2 separate regions of the Homo sapiens genome follow, and region 2 is linked to region 1. A link means that fine-mapping ties the variant in region 1 to the expression of a gene that starts in the linked region. Tissue or cell type: whole blood. Region 1 holds a variant in brackets; the other region holds the start of a gene. All regions are shown on one strand. Distances are from middle to middle.

Region 1 (2,680 bases):
CTGGCCCAGCTGTCAGGGGGCACCTCTAAGGAAACCGGGAGGCAATAATCGTAGCTCCCTTGCAGGGAGGTTGTGAAGGCTGAGTGAGGACATCTGTGCACCTGGAGCACAGTGTGAGTGTGAAACCAGTGTCAGCCCTTATTACTGTCAATACCATGAAGGGGCGGCGGGGGCACTAAGGGTGGCAGGACTCAATATCTAGGCTCTGGGGGGTGCCAGAGCCTGACCGTGCAGGGTCTTCTCTCTCCCTCCACCCTGACTGTGCTCTGTCCCCCCAGGGCTGGACATCCACTTCATCCACGTGAAGCCCCCCCAGCTGCCCGCAGGCCATACCCCGAAGCCCTTGCTGATGGTGCACGGCTGGCCCGGCTCTTTCTACGAGTTTTATAAGATCATCCCACTCCTGACTGACCCCAAGAACCATGGCCTGAGCGATGAGCACGTTTTTGAAGTCATCTGCCCTTCCATCCCTGGCTATGGCTTCTCAGAGGCATCCTCCAAGAAGGGTACGGGGCTGCTAGAGGTTCCATAACTGCCCCGTCCTCGCCAAGGGTGGGCCCGGTGTTCCCACCAGGCTCTCCTTCCGGCGGGGTGAGCAGGGAGTTGGCCCGAGGAAGCTGGGAAAGGAGGGGCCTGAGAGGCCGGCCCCAGACACACCGCCCTCCGGGGCTGGAGATGCCACCCCTATATTTGGGCTCCAGGATTCCTTCTTGCCTCTGTGAGCTTTTCTGACCTCCACCTGGGGGTAGGCGGGCCTGAGAAATTTCATAGAACACCAGAGGGCCCAAGGAGCAATCTGCCTGTGACTCCGTGACTCCATGCCTTTCCCCATCACTGCCAGGGTTCAACTCGGTGGCCACCGCCAGGATCTTTTACAAGCTGATGCTGCGGCTGGGCTTCCAGGAATTCTACATTCAAGGAGGGGACTGGGGGTCCCTGATCTGCACTAATATGGCCCAGCTGGTGCCCAGGTGAGGTCACTGTTGGGGTGGTGTGTGTGTGTGTGTGTGTGTGTGTGTGTGTGTGTCCTCTAAGAAGTGGACCTGTGTGCAGGGTGGGCCAAGGACCCCCCAGGGGAGAGGAGGGAGTGTGACCTGTCACTCAGCAGTGCCTGAGGCA[C/T]GTTGACTTGGATCCTCCTGTCTGTAACCCAGGGTTGCGGCTCTGGGTCAGGTTCCCAGGCAGAGAAGGCCTGTGATAGGAGGGGAAGGTCAGGCATTAGACCTCTCTGCTGGACCAAGCTCTGGGATAGCCCTGAGCAGAACTCCCCAGAAACTGTATTTTTCCCCCAACCTCCCTTCTCCAACTCCCATGGCCTCCCCAGTGGGGCCAGTGCTGAAAGAGGCTGGCTCTGTGCTCGCTCCTCAGCCCTGAGGCCTGTTCCTCCGCCATCTCTCCTCTCTCCCTGTCCTTGACACCAGCCCAGCCTCACCCCGGCCCCTCTCTCTGCCTTCAGCCACGTGAAAGGCCTGCACTTGAACATGGCTTTGGTTTTAAGCAACTTCTCTACCCTGACCCTCCTCCTGGGACAGCGTTTCGGGAGGTTTCTTGGCCTCACTGAGAGGGATGTGGAGCTGCTGTACCCCGTCAAGGAGAAGGTATTCTACAGCCTGATGAGGGAGAGCGGCTACATGCACATCCAGTGCACCAAGCCTGACACCGTAGGTGAGTGTGCTCAGGGGTCCTCGCCCACTGCCGGCTCCACTGGGGCAGGGAGACACCCGCGGGGTAACCTCACCACCCCACCCCAATGCTGCCCACAGAAGGAAGCCTCTTGTAAGGACCTCCCAGCTCTTTAGATCTTTAAACTGCATTTTCCCATAGAATCAAGAGGATGGACCCTCAGCAGATTCCCAGGCCAATTTAGCAACTCTGTTTAGCCGACTCAGTATTCATAGTGGCTTTCACCCCTGATCTCCCACCCCTGAGTCTATATCCTACACTGAGAAGCAGAGGGATGGAGGGGGTGAGGTAGGAGGAATCCTGGGAGTGGGCAGCTCTGGGGCTGCAGGGGAGAGGGGAGAGGGTGCCCTGGGGCCTTGGGGAAGAGGTTCCCAGGCAGTGAGGGAGGGCCCAGCAACCATGTCTGCCACCAGGGTCCTGTTAAAGGACAATACTTTTTCAAAAAGGTAAATTTATAAAGGAACCAGTAAAATTTTAAAAAGAAACAATTCAAAGACAAATAAGAACACTGAAATTAATTTGCTAACAGACACAAAACTTGTCAACATCCACAGAGTAATATCAATTAAATCTCCATGGGACAAAATTCATTTGCCTCTATGAACAAGAGTCATTCGCATTACCCTCAGTTCTTTACAATTCACAGAACTGTAAAATAGCTCAATGACAAGGAAAGATGGGACCCCTGTAGCATCACGTCAGTCCGGAAGGTCTGCTAGGTAACTCCCTAGATCTTGTCCAGAAGACACCCAGGAATTGTCTTGCCCATCTCAAAGTTCTTCATAGTTTTCATGGCAAACCCATGCCCACACACACGAGGCAGCTCATAATCATAATAATGGCACTTTATAAAAGTCAGCATTTTTCTCTGATTATAAAATACATGTTGTCAAAAAGCTTAAAAATGCAAAAAGTACAAAACATTAAAGACAATCTCATATAACCTCTTCTCCCTCCCCACATCCCCTCTCCTTCAAAAGAACTTGTGAACATTTTGGTG
Region 2 (2,680 bases), 43 kb after region 1:
GCAAGAAGGCCCGTACAAATTCAGGGTAATTTTATCATCACCAAATCTTTCAATCCTGTGATGACAATAGCGAAACTACAAGCAGCTCCAGGCCTTCTGCCTCAGGAGCTAACTCTGGTCTTTCAGATGCAGAATAAGGTTGCAAAGTAAAGTACAAACTTCTCCTTATGGCAACACCAAACAGGACCCAGTAACCTGGACAACTGTTTACCTCCTACCCTGGAGCACAAAGGAAATGACACAGCCCCTGGCTGAAACCAGAGGCAGTGTGGCTCAGGGATTATGTGAGCAGGCTCTGGAGTTAGGGTCTCAGCACCACGCAGTTCAGACAAGCAGCCTAACCACTCTGTGCCTTGGCTTCCTTCGCCAGGAAATGCGAGTGATGACTTTCTCTCACGGAGCTGTTGGGAGGCACAGATCCCAAACAACACCTGTAAAGCACTTAGCCCAGGACCCGGCCCTAGCAAGCAATTAGAAGCTGTCTGCCTTTATTTTAAGTCGCCCCTCCAGCTAATGGGAAACACAAGGGCAGGATCCCACCTGACGTCTTCTCTGTTAGAGCCCAACGAACAGCTAGGAGAGACCTTTGCCCCCACACTAAACAAAGGAGAGGGGCGTGTGAAGGGAAAAGGAGCCTCGGCTTCCGTTCATATCCCCCTTGAAGGCACAGCAGACTTGAGGATGACCTGAGAGGTGTCAAGGGAGGGTCAGTGGGTCCGCCACGCTGTCCACCCCTGCCCTTGAAGAGGACACCACCTGCCTGGGGCTGAATGACCAAGGCCCCTCCAGGGCCTCAGGTAGCTAGTCTTATCAGGTGCTGGAACCTTTGCGGATTTGGTTTCTTAGCAGAGCTCGCCTCACCCTTTCCGCCCCCGCCCTTCCCCCCAGTCCCCGAGTCCCCAGCCTCCCTCCTCAGGACTCCGCCAAGGCTGCAGGAAGTGGTCACCCAGGAACAGCCCGAGGGGTGGCCTCTGCCTTCCTGGCGTCAGGAGAGTCGGACGCTTGGCCCTTTCCCAGCCCGGCCTCGTATAGGGTCCGAGGAGCCCATAGCTGCACTCCTAGTTAGGTGGGAGGTCGGACTCCGCCGACAAATCCCAAAGAGAGGGGTGGGGAAGAAGGAGATACCAGCCCTGAAAGCGAAAAGCCGGAGAGGAAAGTCCTGAAAAGCCGCCAGGAATTCCCAAGGAGCGCAGGGCTGGAATGGAGGCGCTGCCCGGACCCTCTCCTCCCACCCAATCCCGCGTCGTCACCCCCTGCTTGGGGTCGGGGGCTCTGGGGTCTGCGTAGGCTGGGAGCCGTTCCGGAACCGGACACCTGGCGCGCACGTCCCGGGAAAGGCGGAGGGTGCATTGCCCCTCCTCACGCCCCCTGTCCCCTGTACCTGCGGCGGCGGCGTGTCTGGCGGGACCCAGCAGCGCGGGGCGTGTTCCGACCACTTAAAAGTTACAAAGTGAAACTCCGGCGCCTCCTGCACATGCGCAGAGCTGCGGCCACCCCTTTCCCAATTTGGAGTCTTGGCCCGCGGCGGCGCAAGCCTGTACGCAGCTGACTGCGCCTCCCGCGGTGGCCCTCGGCGGTCCTCTGCCCCGGCCTGGCCTCCTGGTCGCCGCTCAGCCCCGCAGCTCCTCCCGGAGGTCTGCAAGCCCCGGACCGGCCAGCTCACGTCCAGGCTCCAAGAAGGGATCCGCCGGGGCGCACCCTCTTCCGTCCCCCGGCACGAGCCCAGTCTCTGGACGCCTCCGGGAGAACTGGGCCAAGCACAGGGTGGTCGCGGCGCAGGGAGAGCATCTGCAAACGTTGGTCCCTGTAGTGCTTTGAATTTCCCCGAAGAGCTCTTAGACCCGCCCCGGGAGAGTGGGGTTGCGGGGGTGGTAGCATGGGGAGCTCAGCAGGATTCAGCCCGCACCTCGGCTCCGGGTAGTCGGGAACCGCGCGGAGCGCCCTGCAAGAGGCCACGGCTCCCCCGCCGCTGTAGAAGGCCGGACCGTGAAAGCCCGGAGGGTCTCCGTTCGGGCAAAAATGTGGGGGCGGGTCGCAGCATTTCCAACGCCCCCTGGGGCTAGTCCATTACTGCTCGAGCCAGGGCCGCCAAGGGCACCTACTCCAGCCCAGGTCCGAGAGCGCGGCATGCCTCCCGGCCGGGAGCCAAATGTTTCCAGGGAGCCGGTGGCCTCCACAACCGGACCGCAAGCTCGCGAGGGCAGGGCCGGCCCGCCGCGCCAGGGACTGCTGGGCGCTGCGCGGGAAGCGAGGCTGGGTTCGGGGAGGACCGCGCGCCCTGGGAATCAAGGAGCAAACCAACCCGTCCGCAGGCCCCTGTTTCCCTATCTGTGAAATGAGTGGTTGGACCAAAGCTTCCTCTCAGGTCCCTTCCAGCACCCCTCTCTGAGCTCTGAGCAGTCCTCACCCCACATGCATGCCTTTGCAGGTTCTCCGACCTCCCTTCCATTTCTGAGCTTTCATCTTTTTCTGTAACGGCATAAAAATATCCTCCTTATGGCCGGGCGCGGTGGCTCATGCCTGTAATACCAGCACTTTGGGAGGCCGAGGTGGGCGGATCACCTTAGGTCTGGAGTTCGAGACCAGCCTGACCCGCATGGAGAAACCCCGTCTCTACTAAAAATACAAAATTAGCCGGGTGTGGTGGCACATGCCTGTAATCCCAGCTACTAGGGAGTCT

Evidence for each region. PIP is the estimated chance that this variant, and not a neighbour inherited with it, causes the effect.
Region 2: it holds the start of TMEM63A, and the variant in region 1 is fine-mapped to the expression of TMEM63A in whole blood (TOPMed, PIP 0.99).

Annotation. Positions count from the first base shown.
Region 1 is chr1:225,838,376-225,841,055 of GRCh38, forward strand. EPHX1 (epoxide hydrolase 1) reads left to right here. Exons shown (of 9, transcript NM_001136018.4): 4 at 279-506; 5 at 842-971; 6 at 1,454-1,662. It also overlaps a transcript of TMEM63A not described here. Among named protein-coding and RNA genes, the nearest start is that of EPHX1, 30 kb to the left of the region's middle. The variant C/T (reference allele first, on the strand shown) is at 1,120.
Region 2 is chr1:225,880,923-225,883,602 of GRCh38, forward strand. It overlaps TMEM63A (transmembrane protein 63A), which reads right to left and starts at 1,458. Exons shown (of 25, transcript NM_014698.3): 1 at 1,382-1,458. RefSeq lists enhancers at 1-14, 2,217-2,266, 2,327-2,376 and silencers at 867-986, 1,547-1,706.